Homo sapiens: one gene and its partners. The gene in region 1 interacts genetically with each later gene. Each region holds a gene or a part of one and is shown on either strand. Other genes may lie near its edges. The genes, in order: MFAP1, CKAP5, MRPL22, CDC40, CDK1, PSMD1 and NUP43.

The links.
Region 2: changes in MFAP1 (region 1) and CKAP5 together harm fitness more than expected from each alone (negative genetic interaction), as found in Homo sapiens cells (one large-scale study listed by BioGRID).
Region 3: changes in MFAP1 (region 1) and MRPL22 together harm fitness more than expected from each alone (negative genetic interaction), as found in Homo sapiens cells (one large-scale study listed by BioGRID).
Region 4: changes in MFAP1 (region 1) and CDC40 together harm fitness more than expected from each alone (negative genetic interaction), as found in Homo sapiens cells (one large-scale study listed by BioGRID).
Region 5: changes in MFAP1 (region 1) and CDK1 together harm fitness more than expected from each alone (negative genetic interaction), as found in Homo sapiens cells (one large-scale study listed by BioGRID).
Region 6: changes in MFAP1 (region 1) and PSMD1 together harm fitness less than expected from each alone (positive genetic interaction), as found in Homo sapiens cells (one large-scale study listed by BioGRID).
Region 7: changes in MFAP1 (region 1) and NUP43 together harm fitness more than expected from each alone (negative genetic interaction), as found in Homo sapiens cells (one large-scale study listed by BioGRID).

What each region holds. Positions count from the first base shown.
Region 1 is NC_000015.10:43,814,691-43,818,190, forward strand, and holds part of MFAP1 (microfibrillar-associated protein 1), read right to left. Parts: intron 2,759-3,500; coding exon 2,539-2,758; intron 385-2,538; coding exon 255-384; intron 1-254. UniProt on the Homo sapiens protein: Involved in pre-mRNA splicing as a component of the spliceosome.
Region 2 is NC_000011.10:46,794,281-46,797,780, reverse strand, and holds part of CKAP5 (cytoskeleton-associated protein 5), read left to right. Parts: intron 1-840; coding exon 841-969; intron 970-2,004; coding exon 2,005-2,187; intron 2,188-3,500. UniProt on the Homo sapiens protein: Binds to the plus end of microtubules and regulates microtubule dynamics and microtubule organization. Acts as a processive microtubule polymerase. Promotes cytoplasmic microtubule nucleation and elongation. Plays a major role in organizing spindle poles.
Region 3 is NC_000005.10:154,954,573-154,958,072, reverse strand, and holds part of MRPL22 (large ribosomal subunit protein uL22m), read right to left. Parts: intron 1,703-3,500; coding exon 1,637-1,702; intron 939-1,636; coding exon 861-938; intron 1-860.
Region 4 is NC_000006.12:110,186,927-110,190,426, reverse strand, and holds part of CDC40 (pre-mRNA-processing factor 17), read right to left. Parts: intron 1-3,500. UniProt on the Homo sapiens protein: Required for pre-mRNA splicing as component of the activated spliceosome. Plays an important role in embryonic brain development; this function does not require proline isomerization.
Region 5 is NC_000010.11:60,788,478-60,791,914, reverse strand, and holds part of CDK1 (cyclin-dependent kinase 1), read right to left. Parts: intron 26-3,437; coding exon 1-25. UniProt on the Homo sapiens protein: Plays a key role in the control of the eukaryotic cell cycle by modulating the centrosome cycle as well as mitotic onset; promotes G2-M transition via association with multiple interphase cyclins.
Region 6 is NC_000002.12:231,066,867-231,070,366, forward strand, and holds part of PSMD1 (26S proteasome non-ATPase regulatory subunit 1), read left to right. Parts: intron 1-39; coding exon 40-245; intron 246-3,158; coding exon 3,159-3,302; intron 3,303-3,500. UniProt on the Homo sapiens protein: Component of the 26S proteasome, a multiprotein complex involved in the ATP-dependent degradation of ubiquitinated proteins.
Region 7 is NC_000006.12:149,733,030-149,736,529, forward strand, and holds part of NUP43 (nucleoporin Nup43), read right to left. Parts: coding exon 3,442-3,500; intron 1-3,441. UniProt on the Homo sapiens protein: Component of the Nup107-160 subcomplex of the nuclear pore complex (NPC). The Nup107-160 subcomplex is required for the assembly of a functional NPC.

The DNA of each region.
Region 1 (3,500 bases):
ATCAAGTCATATATATAAGCCAGTCAGTCAAATGGCCTATGGCTTTTTGTTCGTCTCATCAAACACAACAAATTCAAATGTAAAAAGATACAACTTAGTATCATTCTATTTTTAATCCTATCCCCACAAACAAGGAACATGATCAGAGTCCTGCCAAAGCAGTGATCTCATGTTTTTAAGGCTTCAACAAATGAGCACTGGCATGAACTTTTTCTTATATCCAGAAAAAAACTTCCCATGTTCCTTTATCATACCTCATCATCAATTTCCTCCTCCTCTTCTTCACTGCTGTCTTCTCGTTCCATGCGCCAAGCATCTCCTTCTACTTCTGAGTCACTCTCTCCTACCACTTCAGGTTCCACTATTTTTCGATGTCGAGCCAATCTGAAAAACAGTATCTCCAAATGTAACACCAATGTCATAAAAATGAAGTAGCATCAACTGCATTTCCATAGCCACAGAGCACATTATGTTTGCCTTCATTAATACTGAAGTTTTTTTTTTTTTGAGGCAGGGTCTTGCTCTGTCGCCCAGGCTGCAGTGCAGTGGTGCGATCTTGGCTCACTGCCACCTCTGCCTCCCAGACTCAAGTGATCCTCCCACCTCAGCCTCCTGAGTAGCTGGGACTATAGGCGTGCCACCACACCTGGCTAATATTTGTATTTTTTGTAGAGACGGGGTTTTACCATGTTGCCCAGGCTGGTCTTGAACTCCTGGACTTAGGCAATCTGCCCACCTCAGCCTCTCAAAGTGCTGGGATTATAGGTGTGAGCCACCATGTCCATCCAGTATTAAAGTATTGAGGTGGAGGAAACTGAGGTGCAGATTAAAGAAACTAAACTAGGATGTCAGAGCGAATAGTCAAGTTGGGCCTGAAATACTAAATGTATGTTGAGGCATCCTGGGGCACCACAGCAAGCCAGCAAACTCATAGGGATGCATTGGGATTTTTTTTTTTTTGAGACAGAATCTCACTCTGTCACCCAGGCTGAAGTGCAAGGGCATGATCTTGGCTCACCACAACCTCCACCTCCCAGGTTCAAGTGATAATCCCTGCCTCAGCCTCCCGAGTAGCTGGGATTACAGGCATGCACCACCACACCCAGCTAATTTTTTTATTTTTAGTAGAGATGGAGTTTCGCCATATTGGCCAGGCTAGTCTTGAACTCCTGACCTCAGGTGATCCGCCTGCCTAGGCCTCCCAAAGTGCTGGGATTACAGGCATGAGTCACTGAGCCTGGCCTGCATTGGAATATTTTTAATAGCTCAAGATAATTCACTTTCAACATTAAGTCACACTACATTCCTTTCGAGAATATCGTGTCTTTGTGAAACTGGGTTTTGGTGGCTGCTGTGATAAAAAGTAAAAGAAAGTATAGTATGAAAATCAATATAAAACAAGACATGAAAAAGTGACAGTGCTGATTCCAAGGTTTGAAAGGCTGTCAGTGTCCAACAGGCAAACAAATTCCACTAGTAACTATGGTTATGTGAGAATGAATAAAAGTGTTTTTTCCCCCCTGGGCACTGTAATTTTATTTTTTTTTCTTTTTTCTTTTCTTTTTTTTTTTTTGAGATGGAGTCTCGCTTTGTCACCCAGGCTGGAGTGCAGTGGCGTGATCTCGGCTCACTGCAATCTCTGCCTGCCAGGTTCAAGCAATTCTCTGCCTCAGCCTCCCAAGTAGCTGGGATTACAGGTGCCCGCCACCAGGCCTGGCTAATTTTTTTGTATTTTTAGTAGAGATGGGGTTTTACCAAGTTGGCCAGGCTGGTCTTGAACTCCTGACCTCGTGATCCACCCGCCTCAGCCTCCCAAAGTGCTAGGATTACAGGCGTGAGCCACCGCACCTGGCCATGGGCACTGTTAATCTTCAAGTGGCAAAGTTATTAGGACATAAATACTTATTAAGTTACTTGGCTCTAACTACTTAATAACTAAAATAAACAGAACTGTTTTGGCCCAGGAGCTCTGTGAAAAAACTCCTGGGACAATTATGAACGGTGAAAGTTCAGGACTCCTGGCCTACTCTATAAAGTAATGTCTCCATCAATATATAACATACAAAATCCCTCACTGGGAGGCTCTCTTTCTACCATGAGACCTTTATAAGGTCTTTTCTCCTACTTCAGTGTCATTTCCCCTTATTAGCATTTAGAATAAGTAGATGTATAAAATCAATTTACCAAAGTTTATAAAACATCTTTGTGCTAAAAAGACTCCTCTCAACAGCCAACAAATGGTCTGTGTTTTCTATTCCCATAAGGAGTTGAGTAGGTCCTTTAGGCCAGAAGTAACCTGCTGTTTCCTGAAGCTGCCACTTTGTAGCTTTGGTCATGTAACTTTCTTAGCCCCTTTGTGCTCTTAGTTTCCTCCTTTTGTGAAATGGGGATAATAGCACCTATTTCATAAAGTTATTGTATGGATTACAAGAATTAGCAAATGTAATCTACTTGGTAGTACTATTCAAGTATTAGCTATTATTATTATTATTAAGCTGTAGAGGTTCATGTTCAAGTAAACACAATCACAGACATTACCTCTCTTCCACATCTTCACTAATACGGTTCTGTAAACGCCGTAGCCGGGGGTCACTGGATGAATCCTCCTCCTGTTCCTCAGGCTCTGCTTCTTGTTCTTTGGCTTTCTTAATGAACTGAAATTCTTCATCCTCCTCATCTGAGGACTCCATAGGGGCATAGTCTGGCCTTTTTCCGGACACATAACGCTTTACCTTCACTTTTTCCATTGAAATCTCACCTGGGCGAGAAAGGTAACTTATGTTTCAGTAGCCTCTTTCTCAATGTGCTTCAACCCATCACGGCCTTTGCAAATAGAGCCCTTTATTCATAGTAGACAAGAGTCTAAGCAGAAGAAGAAGAGAGCCACTACCCAACCATCTACTCTTCTAATGGTGTTTTCCTACAAAGGCCAAGTCATGAGACTGCATCCTTGTGAAAGCCAACACTGATGATAATGAGGCTTACCTTGAGTACAATGAAGTAGAGGAAGGTAGGCAGTGAAACAGTAGAAAAAAGTCCCCCCCCAAAAAGGCAGACTGCATCCATCACAAATTCATGGTATCCCACCTCAACTATACCCTTAAACAAATTATTTGTAACAGTGCCCAGCACATAGTAAGGGTAATTTCTGCAGGAACATAAAACTGCTCAGGCATTCTTGTAGTTCCCTCTGGAATTTCCATGGCAGCCTTTATAACATACTGCCACATGACTCAATATTCTAATCTTACCTATTTCTACCTTCTTTTCCTTTACCTTATGTGTTATCAAACATGCAAGAGTATGTAATCTCTTACAAATACAATTCTTTTTTTTTTTTTTTTTTTGAGACGGAGTCTCGCTCTGTCGCCCAGGCTGGAGTGCAGTGGCGTGGTCTCGGCTCACTGCAACCTCCGCCTCCCGGGTTCAAGTGATTCTTCTGCCTCAGCTTCCTGAGTAGCTGGGACTACAGACGCATGCCACCATGCCCAGCTAATTTT
Region 2 (3,500 bases), on another chromosome or scaffold:
GGAATATTTTATACCTAGGCAAGATTCTTTTCCTGCAAATTATGTACAGTGACTACTTGACTTTCAGACTATAGAGGTTATGATCTTTTGAGGAGCAGAGCCTTTGCAGCTTGGAAACTGAATCCAAATTCTCCTGTGTTCCTCTTCTTGAAAGAAAGCACAAGTTAGTGTTATGATTCCATTAACTGTTAAACATGTTGTTTCTTACTTGTCCCATATACTGGTGTTCAGCTGAATCTGGCCAAGCATAGGCATCAAATGTGGAGTATTTGAAGATCATTTGGGAGTGAGTTATTTTAGATAGAGGGTAAGAGGAAAAGGAAATACTTATTTGCTAAATGGATTACCAAGGGTTTCCTTAACCCGAAAAATTTTTGTTTTTTTTTTTTTGTTGTTGTTGTTTTTGTTTTGTTTGAGATGGAGTTTAGCTCTGTTGCCCAGGCTGGAGTGCAGTGACACAATCTTGGCTCACTGCAGCCTCTGCCTCCTAGGCTCAAGCAATTCTCCTGCCTCAGCCTCCTGAGTAGCTGGGATTATAGGCATGTGCCACCACGCCCGGCTAGTTTTTGTATTTTAGTAGAGATGGGGTTTCACCATGTTTGCCAGACTGGTCTCGAACTTGGCCTCCCAAAGTGCTGGGATTACAGGCATGAACCACTGTGCCTGGCCCAAAAAGAATTTTTGAAAGAGTAACTGTCAATTGGCACAAGGAAAGCTATACTTAGTTCCAGTAAATTGTAAAAAGCAAATTCTTTATCTAGCAACCATCAGTCTGAATTAAAATGAGTAATGCCTAAAATACCTTGCATTAATATCATTTTGCTTACTTCTGGACTATAGCACATCAATGATTCTGCTCCTGAAGTCAGAGATGCCGCATTTGAAGCATTGGGTACTGCTTTGAAGGTGGTTGGCGAGAAAGCAGTAAACCCATTCCTAGCTGATGTGGACAAACTCAAGCTTGATAAGGTAGGTTAGTAATGGATTGGACTGAAATTGGACAACATTCCTGTCTCTTTGCATCATGGCTTTGTCTCTTGACAGTTATAGAGTACTGGTAGTTTTGATGAGGAGTTCTTGATTTTTTTTAAATTGCCATTTATAGTAGGAAAGAAATGCATAATTGAAACAAGTTTTGGAGGATGCTCTCTGGTACTTTTTGTCTTCAATTTTGTCTGTTGTTTTATTAAGAAAAAAATGCTGATATCACCTCAGGAAATTTATTTCATCCTCCACTGATAGTTCAGACCGAGTTTGAAAACTTAGCTTTTGAGAATTTAAGTTTCATTCCAGGCTATGATGGTGATAATTGTAGAAATAGCTTTCAAATTATAACCGAAAAAAAGCTGAGTGACCAATCTGTAGAGAAGGTGAAAACAGTTCTGTGAGATAAATTTATTTCTAAGGTCCAGAAAATTACCTTCTTATATGTGAATGTCTTCCATAAACAATGTGGTCATTTTAAGTTTATTACAATTCTAATTTGTAAAGAAATAAAATGTAAGATTAATATCTTACGTATGTCTATCTACTGCCAAAAAAGTGTAGATAATTTATCTTTTTTGTTGAAAGGGAAATTTTTTCTCTGAAAATTTTTTTTTTTTTTTTTTTTTTTTGGCAATGAATCTCACTCTGTCACCCAGGCTGGAGTGCAGTGGCACAATCTCAGCTTACTGCAACCTCTGCCTTCTGAGTTCAAATGATTTTCGTGCCTCAGCCTCCCAAGTAGCTGGGATTACAGGCGCCTGCCACCACGCCCGGCTAAACTTTTTTATTTTTAGTAGAGATGGGGTTTCACCATGTTGGCCAGGCTGGTCTCAAACCTCTGACCTCAAGTGATCCACCCATCTCGGCCTTCCAAAGTGCTAGGATTATAGGTGTGAGCCACCTTGCCTGGCCATTTCTCTGAATTCTTATGTGTAGTTGTGGTTTAGAAATGTAATAACGTAGTGGTTGTGTTTCAAAGTTGGGCTTAATGATGTTCATCTCACTTTCATTCTCCAGATCAAAGAATGTTCAGAAAAGGTAGAACTGATACATGGTAAGAAAGCTGGACTAGCTGCTGATAAGAAGGAATTCAAACCTCTGCCTGGAAGGACTGCTGCTTCAGGGGCTGCAGGAGATAAGGACACAAAGGACATTTCTGCACCCAAACCAGGACCTCTAAAAAAGGCACCTGCTGCTAAGGTTAATAGATTATTTAAAAATAGAAGTTAGTAAGGAAGGGTCTGAGTCTCAGGTTCGTGGTTGTTCCTCTAAAATTATTTTGTTTGAGAAATGAATTCATTGGCCACATTAAAAATACAGCAGAAAATCTGTTAATGAAGATAGGATATTCCAGCAATAAATTCAGCTGTTTGGAGCTTTAATAGAGATAAAAATGGTGATGAAGGCACAGAAGTGTGTTTTGTCAATTTAACATAAAATTTACTATCTTAACTTTTTTTTTTTTTGAGATGGAGTCTCGCTCTGTTGCCCAGGCTGGAGTGCAGTGATGCAATCTTGGCTCACTGCAACCTCCGCCTCCCAGGTTCAAGTGATCCTCCTGCCTTAGCCCCCCAGTAGCTGGAATTACAGGCACGTGCCACCATGCCAGGCTAATTTTTGTATTTTTAGTAGAGATGGGAATTTGCCATGTTGGCCAGGTTGGTCTTGAACTCCTGACCTCAGGTGATCCACCCGCCTTGACCTCCCAAAGTGCTGAGATTACAGGCGTGAGCCACCGTGCCTGGTCTGTCTTAACTTTTTAATGTGCAGTTCATTAATATTAAGTATGTTTATAATGTTGTGCAGCATCACCACAATCCATTGCCGTAATGCTTTTCATGTTTTAACACTGAAACTCTATGAATCAATTAACTATCCTCCCATTCTCAGCTTCTTCCAGCCCCTTCTTTCTGTTTCTATGAATTTGACTACTTTGTTTTTATTTTCTATATTTTTTAGAGACAAGGTCTTGCTCTGTTGTCCAAGCTGGAGGGCAGTGGTGCGATTATAGCTCACTGCAACCTGGAACTCCCAGGCTCAAGTGATCCTCCTCACTCAGCCTCCCAAGTAGCTAGGATGACAGGGACTTGCCACCATACCCAGCTTATTTTTAAAAATTTTTTATAGAGGGCCTCGCTGTGTTGCCCAAGCTAGTCTTGAACTCCTGGCCTCAAGTGATCCTCCTGCCTTGGCCTCCCAAAGTGCTGAGGTTACAGGCATGAGCCACCAAGCCTGGCCTTGAGCATCTTTTCATGTGCAGGTGGCAATCTGTAGTTGTATAGTTCTTCTTGGAAAAAAATATCTACTCAAGTTCTTTGCCCATTTTTGAATTGGGTTGTTTTGAGGCAAGGTCTCACTCTGTTCCCCAGGCTGGAGTGCAATGGCACAATCACAGCATACCTCCCAGGCTCAAGCAATCCTCCCACCTCAGCCTTTTGAGTAGCTGGGACCAGAAGCACGTGCCACCACACACAGCTGATTTTTTATTTTTTAATATTTTTGTAGAGACGGGT
Region 3 (3,500 bases), on another chromosome or scaffold:
TGGTGGCGCGCAGCTGTAGTCCCAGCTACTCGGGAGGCTGAGGCAGAAGAATCGCTTGAACGCAGGAGGCGGAGACTGCAGTGAGCCAAGATGGCGCCACTGCACCCCAGCCTGTGCAACAGAGCTAGACTCCGTCTCAAAAAAAAAAAAAAAAAAAAGAAAAATATATGTAATAAAAAAAGAATATTCATGTTCCTAGAAAGAGTCACCACAATTACCATCAGCACATTTGTATCTAGTGAATTAGCTACATTTAGAGTTGGAAGGATCTTTAGGGGTCATCTAATCCAATTCCACATAGTTTAGGTGAGAAAAATAGAAACTGACTGGTTAAGTGTCTTGCCCACGGTCACAAGAAAAAGATCAGAGAAAGGACTAGAGTCCAAGTCTCTTGAGTTCCAGTCCAGGGCTCTTTCCATTTAGTTACAAAATTACTTAGTTATAAAAACTCTCCTTTATAGGAAAAAAAAAATCTTCAAAAAAATATACCTTGAAGTTCAGCCTTGCTCCAAGAAATAAATTATATACACAAACACACATACATACACACAAATACACACATATACGTACCAAGCCCCAAATCATTAAAAATAAGATTCATCACATCATAAGCAGTAAAAAACAGATAAATATTTGGTGGAAATAAAAGCACCTCAGGAAATAAACCCTAAAGCACACAACATTCCTAAAGTATACACATATTTAATAAACTGAGAACCCTAAATCTGTATTATATAAAGTATGCATTTACAACAGAAAATTTAGGGAATTCATGATTTAGGCTAAGCTTACTAATAATTGCAAGACAGCTGCATTCCCCAGTTCCCCATTCCCTACCACACCCAAACTTGTAAGTTTACCTCTTTAATTATTTTGGCCCCTTTTTTGTCATTGAATTCCAACTGAGCCAAAGCCTGGTCAATAGACATTCCTCGTATCTAGAATTAAAGGGTGAGAGACAAAAGAAAATAAATTAGTTTACAAAGTCAATGTTTCCTTTTCAATGAAAGTCTTACATAATTTGAGTAACTTCTAAAAACAGTGAATTGAACCCAAATAAAAGAGAAGAAAACAAGTTTGAGAGGAGACACTATTCTCTTTCAGTCAAAATGAAACAAACATTTTAACCATAAAACTGAGATTATAATAGTTTCAATAACATTAAAAGACAGCAAACATGACAGAGAGACCACAGGTTGGTAACAACCACACTAGGCATTCAAGGCATCTCCTTCTCCTATAGGATAAATGTATTACATGTATATTTGCTGCTTCAGTCTCCCCTCATCTATAAATTTCATTTCCTAGGGAAAAAAACTTAAAAGCAACAGTTTTAAAACAGGTTGAATCAAGTTTACAGATAAATAGGTGGGTTTCCTGGATTCTCTGGTTATAGCCAAACTCCTGATGCCTTTTAGTATCTATCTATCCAATGTGATTTAGTTTCTCAGAAAAAGGTGAAAATTAAGGAAAATCATACATCTCTGAACAATCATTCTTTTGACAACCTACCAATTATATCACATTCCTCACAAATCTTTTTTATTTTTCAAATCCTGGGGTGAGGGGTGGGGAGGGGAACTCATAGCTTCTTTCCTAAATTATTAATTATATGGTAATAGTCATTGCAGCTTACCAATTTTGCCAAATACCACATCTTGTCTTTGCTATATTTTATTTGTCTTCGACAGTGGTAGATTTCCTTACAAATTGGAAAAAAAAGGACAGAAAGAAAATGTTAGCAGGTTTACCACAAAATGACAATAACATATACTGTTATTTAAGTTTTTACTTTCTAGGCCTAAAGAAAATGCTGCCATAAGAAATAGAAACATTACTAAGAATTTAGAGATTATTTTCCCCTACACAAAGTTGTATTTTTCCAAAGTCTCACTATGTTAAAAGATTACTACGGGAGAAATAGAAACTATACAATGGCTGGTTTGTGTCAACACTTGCAACATTTCTATCCAAAGAAATCCTAAAAGATTTAAATGAAAGTATCTTTAAAACATTTAGCTGATTAAAAGAACAAAAGAAAAAGTACAAGAAAACGTTCATTATTAATGAGGAGAAAAATGGCAAAATGGACAAGTGTTTTCATGTGAAAAGCCAATATTCTAGGTGTTTGGCCAACAGCATAGGTTCTAGAATCAGACTGCCTGCCTGGATTTGAATCCTAACTCTGCCATTTACTAGCTACATAATCTTGAGCAAGCTACTTAACCTCTCTCTAATTTTCCTCTTCTGTAAAATAAATAAAACGATAATTAGAGGGAAATAAAGTAACCTATTTCAAGAAACCATTTTATAGTGCTTGGCACATGGTAACTTCTCAGTAAATGTTAGCTTTTATTATCTTCTATTTAAAGTTGTAGGTATGTCCTGTTTAATTACAATGTATAGTTCAAAAAGCACTTTTCACTCATTATTTCATTTAGTCTAACTCTATGAGTTGAGGGATGAAACATTTTACATATAAACTGAAAATCAGAGAAATCAAGTGACTTGTCTAAGACCAGAGGTTTGCAAGAGACAAAGTTGGAATTCAAAGAACAGAGAAGTATGATACACCTGATACAATGTCTAGCACATCTACTTTCAAAAGTTCCTCTATTGACTCTAAAACCCACTTTCTTTCCACTACTATACCAAACTGCCATTTAAAAAAAAATTAGAAAACATGTGTTATGGAAAACTATAGCAAGGAGGTCTCAAAACTTTCTAACATTCTGACTCCTGCTGGAAATTTTCAAATGCCTTAGAAAGAGCAGTTTTCTCAAGTGGCCATCTTTTAATATGTGGCAGATTTCAGTTGCAATAGAAGCAGACAGCCTGAAACTATAGCAATAGCCTAATTACATTTTCAGCAATAAAGTTTCTTGGGGAGACAGGGAGAGGAAAGAACTATCATGACTGATAATAATAATCTGCAAAAATTAATCCACTCAATGAAATCTTTCATATAGAAGAGACCCTTGGCCGGGAGCAGTGGCTCAGCCTGTAATCCCAGCACTTTGGGAGGCCGAGGCGGCCGGATCACAAGGTCAGGAGATCGAGACCATCCTGTGAATGGTGAAACCCCGTCTCTACTAAAAATACAAAAAAAAAAAATTAGCCGGGCATGGTGGCCGGCGCCTGTGGTCCCAGCTACCCGGGAGGCTGAGGCGGGAGAATGCCATGAACCCGGGAGGTGGAGCTTGTAGTGAGCTGAGATTGCGCCACTGCACTCCAGCCTGGGCGACAGAGCGAGACTCCGTCTCAAAAAAATAAAAATAAAAAAGAAGAGACCCTTTAATTTGTGCATTCTTGTGGTGGGATAATTTTAAACCTTAATTTTGTATGATTACCCTCAAATTTTACACATATAAACAATGGTAATCCTGACCAGAGGATGGCAAAAAGGAAGAAGTGTTTACAAGAAAGGCAAAAGTTAATCATCCTCTTCCAAAACTGAAAAAAAACCTCAGCATTTACTTTGGGCAGGTGAAATGTCTAAG
Region 4 (3,500 bases), on another chromosome or scaffold:
TGGCCTAGTTAGGGCTTCATTATATCTTGCCTGGCCTATTGTAATACTTCCTTATCTGCTTTAATACACCCTCACTTTTGTCATATTAGACTAATTGCTGATTTTTAAAAATAGCAAGCACTTTGATGCTTTCTGTGCTGTAGGCAATGTTACCGCCTTGTACCTTAGGCAATGCCTTTATTATTTTATGCCGCCTTCTTATTTTTCCTGATACCTTCCCTCCTCCTGCCTCAGGAAAACTGTTGGGTTTTTGTTTGTGGTCCTAAAAAAATGCTGTACTCTATTTGATAGTACTTGTGATATATTATTTGTTGCACATGGCTTTTATGTACATCATATATCCTCACTGCCCAGTAGAACGCAGGGCATTCAGCACATATTCAATAAATATTTGTTAAATTAAATTGAAGACAGAAAAGCCAAATCTGTAGAGAAATTAAGTAGGATAAGGCTGACCAACAATCATTGGATTTGGCAATTATGTCACAAAAAACCTTTGTGAGAGTGACTGTTAGTAAGGACTATGGAAAGCCAGCTGCAAGAGGCAGAGGTGTAAATGAGGATCTAGAAAAACACCACCATATAAATCTGTACTGAAAATATTTGGTGGTAAAAAACAGAACAGATGGGGTGTCAGGTTGAAGGATTTTCAGGGTCAAGTTTTTCTTCTTCCTTAAGAAGAGACTAAGTCAAAGATGTGGTCAATCGTAGGCTAGAAGGCAGGTGATGGCAGGGAGAGACACATGACAAAAAGGACCAGATAAAGGTACAGTTGCCCTAGAAGAGGTAGGAGGGAATAAAATTCAGGACACAGTTGGAAGATTAGCCTCTGAAAAGAGGAGTGCTCTCTTTGGGATGAAATAGAGATGACAAAGGTAAGAATGGGTGATAGATGACAGATGTTTGGAGGTGTTGGGAATCATAATTGATCCTTTTATTTTCTTGGTGTAGTCAGGGTACAGGCAAATTTATAAAGCAAGCATGGAGCTCCAGATTCATATATTCATTCAACAGATTTTGATTGTGTGCCTACTATGTGCCAGGCACTGTCCTGGGCCCACAGAAATAGACAAAGATACCTGCCCTTGTGGAGTTTATATTCTAGTGGAGGAGACAGACAATAGACTATATAATATATAAATAAGTTTACAGCTCTCTAGAAGAGGCTAAATAATATGAAAAAAAAGAATTTAACAACACTAACATGCTAGCACCAGAGCAGACACACTATTTCATATAATCTGTGAGGTTAAGTGTTAGCAGGATTAAGTCACTTAACCCAAGCTACTAATAGAATAAATGGGAAGGGGAAGAGCTCAAAGTAACCACAATGAACAATGTTAAAGAGATCTAACTAGTGACAAATTAAAAAATCACTGGCAGAGTAACTAGGTGTATCAGTCAGGGTTCTTAGTTGCAAGCAGCAGGCTGATTCAGCATTATAAAATCCTTATGAGTTTCTCTTAGAATTACCAGGAAGTGTGGAGAATCAGCTTTGACAAGTAGGCAGAAATAAAGGGTCAGTATACACTTAATAGATGAAATCACAATTCAAAATTAATCATCACAGAACCCATCCAGTGAGGATAATTGTTTACCATGACTGAACACCACTACTAAACTGCTATGGCTACCACTGGATGCTGCTATTGAAACTGCTGGCCTGAGAAACTAGAAAACATTGACCATCATTGCCAGTTTAAGTCCTCTTTCCTGGCTTCTTTGTGGATAAATTTCAGATTAGAAAGCTTAGGTTGGTACATCTGTTTGGCTGAGCCCAACAGATACACCCACCCAACAGTCCTGAGCCTCAGCTGAAAGGGAGCTGAATTAGAATAATCTGGGTTTTCAGCTTCTGAAGATGGGTGATGAACAGGGATGTTCTTCAAATTAAGACCCTTAAGAAAGGGGTTTCAAATGCTAGGCCATTGAAAAGATGACAAATATTATCTATATCACCCTAGAATGAACACTAGAATCTTTACTGATGAAAGATACTATCTTGCACATGGCCCAATAGCAAACTCAGTACTATAAAGTTAACAGGTTACATACAAATTGTTTAAACTGCATAAAAGCTAAATTAAATGCTTTTCCCGCTTAATATTCAACCCCTAGTGACAAACTGCTTAAAATAACATGAGGCTTAGCCACATTCATATCTTCCCAAAGGATTTTATAGTGTATAGTTGCTAGAACCACTTTATAATATGGGATATGAGATCTTTCCAATTAAGGGTATTTAAAATATTCCAAATTGAAATTATTTTGAAGAGTATCATGACACATCAATTTTTAAATGCAAAGTACAATTTAAGAAATTACTGTTTATATAAGCAACACTGGCAGCCAATAAAAAATATAAGTAAGTCCCAGTCTCTGACTCCTGCTAAAATTATAGAACAAATTGAACAACTCTCAAGAAAACGAAGGGCTGTTATTTTACAGAAATTTAATTAGAAAACTTGGACAATACCACAACCTTGTTTTAATACCCATGAGGCATTCAATACCAATTAGGTATGCAATTGGAATTACCACAGAATAACAAATTATTTCTATTCAGTTTCAATTATCCACAAAAATTAAAATGCAGTAAGTGAAGGGCACCCTGTGGGTCAAATAAGTTTAAATAGTTTATCTTTTTGTTGATTCAAAGTAATTTGAGAATAAAACTGGGTAATATTCACTTTTCAGTCTTTTCCACATTTCTTCCTGTGCCCAAATAAGAAAAGAGACATAAAAACACCATGTAAACTGTAAAGCAGATCACAAATATTATTATTATAAGTTACTTATCAATTTATGGCATAGTTTTTTTTCCTCCCAGAAAACAGAAATGACTAAACTTCCTAATAGAAGAATTTAGGTGAATGATATAAAAGAACAGAACTTCAGATAAAGATATCCTCTGAGTTTGGCCCTTAACAGATTGCAGAGGGAAAAGGTCGTCCATTTGAAGCTCACAAATATAGGAAATACCACACATGAAAAAACTGAAAAATATGCCTCAAAATTAGAGGCAGAATTTTTATTTTACTTTAGTTGGCTATGCTAAGGCAAAGAATACATTCGGGGGAAGTAACATAGTCACTGGTTGAAATGAGAGAAAGCCAGATCTGCTTTTGTTTTTGTAACCTTAAAGTCACTTAATAACCAACTCTTGCAATCCAATAGGGTCCACTGCATGATTTCTAAAGTGCAAAACCTTACAATGTTGCATGTAAAAATTTTTATTGGCTAACATGGTGAAACCCCGTCTCTACTAAAAATACAAAAAATTAGCCAGGCGTGGTGGCGGGTGCCTGTAGTCCCAGCTACTAGGGAGGCTGAGGCAGGAAAATGGTGTAAGCCCAGGAGGCAGAGCTTGCAGTGAGCGGAGATTGCGCCACTCAACTCCAGCCTGGGAGACAGCGAGACTCCGTCTCAAAGAAAAAAAAAAATTTTATCCAGAAAATACTCATTGTCATACATATACTGGAGAACACAAATATGTGTAA
Region 5 (3,437 bases), on another chromosome or scaffold:
GAGATCTGTACCAGAGTGTTACTACCTATTAAAAAGCAAATTTTTACAATGAATAAATGTGGTGCATAAAATTACCTACACTTAAACATTTATATTTTTATTAGGGCTGTCCTTTAAAGGTTGTATGACTGCCACCAATAATATTGTTTAAGTCAATTAAAGGTACACAAAATTGAAGATAAATATTTCATTTCTAAGTTCTATTCATTAGAAGACAAAACAGATAAAAGCATAATAAATATTTTTTTGCTTTTCAAATCACTAAAGATCAAGACAGTTATACAGCCTTATCTTCCCCCCACTGAAAAACCAAACCCATTGATAATAGATTTGGGGTGACACTGAACAAAGTGCAGGTACTGCTTACTTGCTAAGATGGTACTAACAGTACCATTATAACATGAATAAGAAACATGAGAAAGAAATAAAGGGCATCCAAATTGCCAAGGAAGAAGTCAAATTGTCCCTGTGTGCAGAGATGATCTTATATATAGAAAAACTTAAAAGACTCCACCAAAAACTCTTAGAACTGATTAACAAAGTTGCAGTATACAAAATCAAAATCAGCATACAAAAATTAATAGTTTCTATACACCAATAACTAGCTGAAAAATAACATCAAGAAAGCAATCTAATGTACAATAGGTACAAAAAACCTAGGAATAAATTTAACAAATGAGATGTATAATCTCTACACTAAAAACTATAAAACATTGAAGAAAAAAATTTAGGAAGATACAAAAAAGACATCCCATGTTCATGAACTGGAAGAATTAATATAAAAATGACCATATTACCACCCAATGCAATCTACAAATTCAGTGCAATCTCCATCAAAATACCAAGGACATTCTTCACAGAAATAAAAAGAAATCCTAAAATTCATATAGAACCAAAAAAGACCCACAATAGCTAAACCAATCTTGAGCAAAAACAACAAAGCTGAAGGCATCGTATCACCTGACTTCAAAAATGTATTACAAAGCTATAGTAACCGAAACATCATGATATTAGTATAAAAAAGGACGCAGAGACCAACAGAACAAAATAGAGAATCCAGAAATAAATCCATGTATTTACAGTCAACTCATTTTTGAGAAAGATGACAAGAACATTCACTAGGGAAAAGCCAATCTCTTCAATAAATGGTGCTGGAAAAACTGGATAATCCACATGCAGAACAATGAAACTAAACCCCTATATCTAACCATACACAAAAATCAACTCAAAATGGATTAAATAAGACCTTAAACTATGAAACTATTGGAAGAAAACAGAGGAAACACTGTTATTGATATTGATCTGGACAAAAATCATATGGATAAGACCTCAAAAGCTCAAGAAACAAAATCAAAAATAGACAAATGAGGCCAGGTGCAGCAGCTCATGCCTATAATCCCAACACTTTGGGAGGCCAAAGCGGGAGGATTGCATGAGCCCAGGAGTTCGAGAACAGTCTGGGAAATATGCTGACAGCCCCGTCTCTAAAAAATTTAAAAATCAGCCTAGCATGGTGGTGCATGCCTGTGTATGGGCCCAATTACTCAGGAGGCTGACGTGGAAGGATCACTGGAGCCCAGGAGGTTGAGGTTGCAGTGAGCCCTGTTCACGCCACTGCATTCCAGCATGGGTGACAGAGAAAGACCCTGTCTCAGCAATAACAAATAGACAAACAGGATTATATCGAACTAAAAAGCTTCTGCACAGCAAAAGAAACAGAATGAACAGAATAACAGAATAATGCAACAATCTGCAGAATGGGAGAAATTATTTGCAAATCATTCATACAACAAAGAATTAACATCCAGAATAAAAAAAATAGTAAGAATCCAATTTTAAAAATGGTCAAACAATCTGAATAAAACTTTCTCAAAAGACATACAAAGACCAGCAAGTATATGAAAAAGTGCTCAACATCACTATTCATCAGGGAAATGCAAATCAAAACCACAATGAGCTATCACACCCAGTTAGAGTAATTATCATCAAAAGACAAAAAATAAGTGCTGATAAGGATGCAGAGAAAGGGCAACTTTTTACGCACTGTTGGTGGGCTCTTAAATTAGTAGAGCCATTATGAAAAACTGTTTAGAGGATGCTCAAAAAACTACAAACTAGAACTACCATATAATTTTGCAATCCCACTGCTGGGGGTATATGTCCAAAATAAATAAAATCAATTATGTCAAAGAGATATCTGCACTCCCATGTTTATTGAAGCACTATTCACAATAGTCAAGATACAGAATCGACCTGTTTCCATCAACAGATAATGTGGTGTATACATACACACATACAGAAAATGTAGTGTACACACACATACGTGCACGCAATGGAATACTAGAATACTACTCAGCCATAAAAAAAGAATGAAATTCTGTCATTTATGACAACAAGGATGAGCCATGAAATAAGCCAGGCACAGAAGGATAAATACCACATGTTTTCACTCATATTTGAAAACGTAAAAAGTTGATCTAATGGCCATAGAGTGGAATAGTGGTTATTCAGGGCTTAGTAGAGGAAGACAGAGATAAGTTGGTTTATGGATACAATTACAGCTCAAAAGGAAAAATAAGCTCTAGTGTTCTACAGCACTGTAAGCTGACTACAGTTACCAATAATTTACTGTAAATTTTCAAATAGCCCAAACAAAGAATTTTGAATGTTCCCAACAAAAAGAAATAATAAATGCTTGGGGCAATGGATATGCTAACTACCCCAATTTAATCAATACACATTGCATACATGTATCCAAATACCACACTGTACCCCATAAATATGTATAATAATGCGTCGATAAAAAATGATTTTTAAATTATTTAAAAAACGTGAATAAGTCAAATAACAGATTAGTGATCTAGAACTAACCAACCATTTTAGTATATTTATCATATGGTAAAAATATTGCCTGTTAGAACAAAGCTAATGAGGTCAATAGCATTTGTTTAAGACAAAGAAAACAAAATAATCTTAGTTTATTTATATAGCCATGTAAAAAAATGATAAAGACTAACAAGCAGCCAAGACATCTAATCAGATGAGCACTGTTACTAGTTTTGATCTGGAGACAGTCTTTGGGTCAAGGGTAGACAACTCCACAGAAGACAGCCTTTCAATAATCCTTTATTATACAATGTTCCCTTTCCTTCAGAAACACTAAATGCCAAGTCAGCAATATAACACAGATCAAACATAAATTATAGTTAGCAATTCCTAAATGTATCAGAAATAATATACCTTAAGGAACAAAACCTGTCTTTGAATCAATCTGACTATAATCAGGGAGGGTTCAGTCAGGAGACAGAAACCAAGGTGGTGATTTGAATGGGGAGAGTTTAATATAAAGAATTAAAGTACAACAAAGGATGGGAATGATGTAAATAAATAAAGTAAAAAATAATGAAAATGTAAAAACTGTAGCTAGGAAAACTCCT
Region 6 (3,500 bases), on another chromosome or scaffold:
CAATTTACAAGATAATCAGTTATTTTATTTCCTCAACAGCAAAATGCATTGATCACTACACCAAACAATGTGTGGAAAATGCAGATTTGCCTGAAGGAGAAAAAAAACCAATTGACCAGAGATTGGAAGGCATCGTAAATAAAATGTTCCAGCGATGTCTAGATGATCACAAGTATAAACAGGCTATTGGCATTGCTCTGGAGACACGAAGACTGGACGTCTTTGAAAAGACCATACTGGAGTCGGTAGGTAGATGATGTTATTTTAGAAATTATTGTTGATAGGGAATCAGCAAAGCAAGTTATTCAAACTGAAACTTTCATAGGCAGTGAAAAGAAAATCTAGTTTAGAAATAGCAGGTGATCTTTTGCCAAATATTTTATTTTCATATTTATGTATGAACCTTGGTTGTGTTTTGTGTTCATGAAATATCTGCTTTTATCTTACCACATAATCCTTTGAAGTCTTGCATGGGGAAGTTGTATTAATTACTCTGCCCTTTTTAAGAAGACAATAAACTATATTTTAATGCATTTATTAGGGTTAAAACTACTCAGCTAGATTCCTGGTTTGCGGTGTTTGCAATAATTAAGACAATTTAAGTCACCAACCGAAGTGGTCAGAAAGGTACAAAGCTGAGTAAAATGGACATTGATCTGCAGGCTTACTTTGCCTCACCAGCTATTTCTTTCCATGAGCTAGCTCTCTGTACACTAGCCATTTTGGTATCTTCTCATCTAGATGAACCCTGCCTCGTTCCCCCTTCCAAAAATATTTTTTACATTTCTTTTTTCTTTCTTTTTTTTTTGAGATGGAGTCTCGCTCTGTCAACCAGGCTGGAGTGCGGTGGCGCAATCTTGGCTCACTGAAACCTCTGCCTCCGGGGTTCAAGCAATCCTCCCATCTCAGCTTCCTGAATAGCTGGGATTACAGGCGTGTGCCACCACACCCAGCTAATTTTTGTATTTTTAGTAGAGTTGGGGTTTCATCATGTTGACCAAGCTGGTCTCAAACTCCTGACCTCAAGTGATCCACCCGTCTCAGCCGCCCAAAGTGCTGGGATTATAGGCATGAGCCACCACACCTGCCCTCCATTCCTTTCTTTGCCTGCTTTATTTCTCCTCACAATCCAAAACTTAGCTCAACTATCCCTTGTTTGCAGAACTTTGATCCCAATACCCATGCCTTCCTCAGCCCCTAAGCAAAGACTAGGTCCAGTTCTGTTGTTAATCTTATGGAGCCCTGTACATTTTTTCATGGTGTTTATCCCTTGATAATTGTATTAGTAGATAGTTAATAGCTGTCTTTCCCACTAGATCATAAGCTATATCGGGACAGGTATTTGTGCCTTTTTCACCACTGTATCCCCAAAACCTAACACAGTGTTTAGCGTCGATAATACGATTTGTTTAAATGAGTGAATGAATGAATGGCCTAATGTGATATAATGGCCCTTGTTTCCCTCTCAATTTCATTTTTGTGCAGTTTTAGCCCATCCTTGTCTTCGTGTGTGTAAGATTACATTTTTGGCTTTCATTTATTCAACAAATATTTTTTCAGTGCTTACTGTTTGCCAGATACTGTTCTAGGCATTGGAGATGTGCATTGTCCCCATTCATCCATGGTTTTGCTCTCTGTGGTTTCAGTTACCTGCAGTCAACTACAGACTGAAAATATTAAATAGAAAATTCCGGAAATAAACAATTCATGTCTTAAATTGTGCACCATTCTGACTAGCACAACGAAATCTCTCACCATCTCTTTCCATCCCGCATGGGATGTGAATCATCCTAGTAGATCTATGCTGTGTACACTGCCTATTAGTCACTTTAGTGGCCACCTTGCTTATCAGATTGACTGTCGCAATATCACAGTGCTTGTGTTCAGATAACCCTTATTCTACTCAGTAATGGCCTCAAAGTACAAAAATAGTGATGTTGGCAATTTAGATATGCTAAAGAGAAGCCTTAAACTGCTTCCTTTAATTGAAAAAGTGAAAATTCCCAACTTAATAAGGAAAGAAAAAAAATTGTGCTGAGGCTGCGCTGAGATGTACATAAGAATGAATCTTCCATCCATAAAATTGTGAAGAAGAAAACAGAAATTTGTGCATAATTTATATAGAGTTTGGTACTGTTTGTGGTTTCAGGCATCTGCTGGGGGTGCTGGAACATAGTCCTCTCAGATAAAGGAGCACCTACTATAGTAGCAAACAAGACCAACAAAGTTCCTGCCCAAAGCAAACACTTCATTGGGGAATCTAGAAGGAGAACAAGCAGTCAAACAAATAAATATATAAAGTAAAAGAATGAAAAATGTTTTAAAAAAAAAAAAGCAGAGTAACAAATGCATCTTTCTTTGTATCCCAGTGCACATATACATATAGATGTAATTTAAGCTTTATGAAACTAATACCTACTCTTACTACTTGTGATATAACTCTGTTATTTTTAAATTGTATTTTTTATTTTTTTAATTTGCTAGTCACACTTCATTAAATTGATTTTATTACGCAGTGGAAAGTCACAACTCACTTTTTGAGAAACACTCCTGTAGCTTTCAGTGTGCTAATTTATGTTGAAGGCCTTTTACAGGGTGAAGTCTCAAATATTGGGGATACTTTTGAGAATCACCAAGTAAACACATAGAGCCTGGATCAAAGTTTTCTTGTAGGGAGAGCACCAGACAGATGTGGCAGTACTCAATGCTTGAGTCACTGAGAGCTGTGTTGTGTTTCCTGGCCAGCAAGTGAGTGTAGGCAGTAAGTCATGAGGGAGTCTAGTAGCAAGATAAGAAGCAGAAAGACTTCAGCAGACACATTTGGAAAACATAGCTACTTAGTGTATGGACAGTTGTATATCTTTTATAATAATTAACAGCATCACTTTATTATAGTATACTATGTTCATGTAATAGTGATTCTGAGTACCACTAAATATTATTTTTAATCCATTTTTTATGATGATGTGGAAATATGTAATTCTTTTAAGATTTTCATCTAAAATGGTTTAAAATTCTTGAGTTTGTATTGCTTAAGAGGTCTAAATAATTGGCTTCCTAGATTGGCTAAAGAAGCAAGATTAAAATAATTCAATTTCTAAATAAATATAATGCTGCAATAACCAGATAACGTTATATCTTTAAACTATCTCTTTCAGAATGATGTCCCAGGAATGTTAGCTTATAGCCTTAAGCTCTGCATGTCTTTAATGCAGAATAAACAGTTTCGGAATAAAGTACTAAGAGTTCTAGTTAAAATCTACATGAACTTGGAGAAACCTGATTTCATCAATGTTTGTCAGGTAATGACATTAAATTATGTTTCATTACATTGCTCCACGCTGTACTGTGCTATGCTATACCACTTCACATTTTATTACTTTATATTACTATAATGGCTTTATACATGTATCTCAGCTGATCTTCACAGCAGCCCTGTGAAAATAAGGTATGTGCTTTATATTCCTTTTTATTAATAAGAAACTAAATCTCACAACACT
Region 7 (3,500 bases), on another chromosome or scaffold:
GGTGTGTGCCCAGCTAGGAATGACTGTCTTTTACGGAAAAGTTTTTTTTTAAATTGGTAAGTTGTCTTATTTTTCAATTCCTGTGTCATTAATATATGAAGATTATATTATTGGAAAAACTGAGAAAGATCCTAATGAAATATAAAAATGAATTTCTAAGAGGCAATATCCAATATTGGTTAATGCCAAGATTCTGAATACTTCTGGTCTTTATCACAGAAATAGCAACTGACTTCTACCAAACCAAAATTTGGAAATGTTCCAAGAATTTGGATCCAGTCTCAGATGGAGGGCTTTTTATTTTTTATTTGTTGATTATTTATCAAGAAAAACTATTTCTTAGCCCACATATGTATGCTTCATACTTTAGGAACATAGGTCAGTGACAAACTTCTACATAATTCAACTCAAAGAAATTCTCTCTCTCTTTTTGAAACAGGGTCTTGCTCTGGCGCCCAGGCTGGAGTGCAGAATGGCATGGTCATGGCTCACTGCAGCCTTGACCTCCAAGGCTTAAGCAATCCGCCTATCTCAGCCTCCTGAGTAGCTAGGACTACAGGTATGTATCACCATACCTGGCTAACTTTTGTATTTTTAACAGACATGGGGTTTCTCCATGTTGCCCAGGCTGGTCTCAAACAACTGGGCTCAAGAGATCTGTTTGCCTTGGACTCCCAAAGTGCTAAAATTACAGGCATGAACTACCGTGCCCAGCCCCAAAGAAATTCTATATATTCCAAAATCACTTTCAATTCTGAAAGATACCAGTCTTCCTCATTTCCTCAAAATCTGTTTTGTTTTGTTTTTTTTTTGAGACGGAGTTTCACTCTTGTTGCCCAGGCTGGAGTGCAATGGTGCGATCTTGGCTCACCACAACCTCTGCCTCCCAGGTTCAAGTGACTGTCCTGCCTCTGCCTCCCTAGTAGCTGGGATTACAGGCATGTGCCACCACGCCCGGCTAATTTTGTATTTTTAGTAGCGACGGGCTTTCTCCATGTTGGTCAGGCTGGTCTCGAACTCCTGACCTCAGGTGATCCACCTGCCTCGGCCTCCCAAAGTGCTGGGATTACAAGCATAAGCCACCGCCCCCGGCCATCATTTCCTCAAAATCTTTTATGGAATCATAATTTCTATAGAAATCTAATAATAAAAAAAATTAGCTAGGTGTAGTGGCATATACCTGTAGTCCCAGCTACTCAGAAGGGCAAGGCAAGAGGATCACTTGACCCCAGGAGGTTGAGGCTTAAGTGAGGTACCATGCCACTGCACTCCAGCCTGGGCAACATATTGAGACCCTGTCTCTACAAAAAATAAAAAATTAGCCGGGTGTAGTAGGGGTGCGTGCCTGTAGCCTCAGCTACTCGGGAGGCTGAGGTGGGAGGACTGATTGAGCCAGGGAGGCAAGGCTGAGGCTGCAGTGGGCTGTGATCATGCCACTGCATTCCAACCTGGGTGAGAGAGACCCCATTTTTAAAAAAATATATAGGGCCGGGCGCAGTGGCTCACACCTGTAATCCCAGCACTTTGGGATGCCAAGGCAGGCAGATAACCTGAGGTCAGGAGTTTGAGACCAGCCTGGCCAACATGGTGAAACCCCATTCCTACTAAAAATACAAAAATTAGCTAGGCATGGTGGCAAATGCCTTTAGTCCCAGCTACTAGGGAGGCTGAGGCAGAAGAATGGCTTGAACCCAGGAGGCAGAGGTTTCAGTGAACCGCGATTGTGCCACTGCACTCCAGCCTGGGCGACAGAACAAGACTCTGTCTCAAAAAAAAAAAAAAAAAAGGATAATCCATTCTGGCATGATATCAAAGACAGAGTGAGAAAATGAAAAATTTCTGTCCGGCTAAATCATCTCCACCAGAATCAAAAGAAAAAAAAAAGCTTATAAATCTATTGTTCATGTTAAAAAAAATGATGTGATGCAACAATAAATTGAGGAGCACAACATTTATTAACAAATATGACAGCCTGCATTTGCATGGGAAAAGGGCATTCTTGCACACTTCACTATGGCATATAAAATGGTATGATTTTTATCACTTTTCAGGGAGTGGGGTCTCACTATATTGTCCAGGCTGGAGTGCATAGGTGCAATCATAATGCACTACAGCCTTGAATTCCTGGACTCAAGCAATCCTCCTGCCTCGGCCTCCTGAGAAGCTGGTGCATGCCACTCACCTGGATTAAACTAGTATTATTAACTTTTTAAAGAGGTTATGTTGCCTAAGCTGGCCTCAAACTCTCAGGCTCAAGCAATCTTCCTGCCTCAGGCTCCTGAGTAGGAGGAGCCTGGAACTACAGGCATGTGCCAATGTGCCTGGCTTAAACTGGTATTATTTTTGTGTAGAAAAATCTGTCAATGCGCTATGCAAAATGTTTGGCCTAGCAATTCTACTTCTAAAAAATTATCCTAAGAAAATAAGTACATAAGGCTGGGCATGGGCATAATGGCTATGCCCAGCACTTTGGGAGAATCGTGTAAGTCCAGGAGTTCAAGGCTGCAATGAGCTATGATCACACCACTACTGCACTCTGGCCTAGGCAACAGAGAGAGACCCTGTCTCCAAAAAAAAAAAAAAAAAAAAAACACACACAGAGATAAATATCTAAGGATTCTAACTACAGTTTTGGATATAAGAATTAAACCTGTGGTTGATGTGGTGGCTCATAACTCATACCTGTAATCTCAGCACTTCCTGAGGATCACTTGAGCCCAGGAGTTTGAGACCAGCCTGGGCAATAAAGTGAAACCCCATATCTACAAAAAAAAAAACAAACAACAACAAAAAATCAGCTAGGCATGGTGACACACACCTATAGTCCTATCTACTTGGGAGGCTGATGCGGGAGGATCACCTGAGCCCTGGAAGTCAAGGCTGTAGTGAGCCGTGACTGCACCACTGCACTCCAGCCTGGGCGACAGAACCAGACCCTGTCTCTTTAAAAAAAAAAAAAAAAAAAAAACCAGGCACGGCGGCTCATGCCTGTAATCCCAGCACTTTAGGAGGCCGAGCTGGGCAGATCACCTCAGGTCAGGAGTTCAAGACCAGCCTGACCAACATGGAGAAACCCAGTCTCTACTAAAAATATAAAATTAGCCAGGTGTGGTGGTGCATGCCTGTAATCCCAGCTACTCGGGAGGCTGAGGCAGGAGAATCGCTTGAACCCAGGAGGCAGAGGTTGCGGTGGGCCAAGATAGCGCCATTGCACTCCAGCCTGGGCAACAAGGGTGAATCTCCGTCTCCAAAAAAACAAAAACAAATGTTAAAGAACTTAAATGTCGAGTAAAAAGAAATTACATAACTATTTAAATTTACACAATTCAGCCATTAAAAGCTATGATGTAAAATGATCCACATGTATCATTATGGAAAGGTGCTTATTATATGTCATATAACTCACCCAATATAAACTTTCTGTATCTTCACAATACTTACTTTCAGCTTCATGAGCCTTCAGCAGAGATACAGGCATAGTACCTTGTCTAACATCCCAA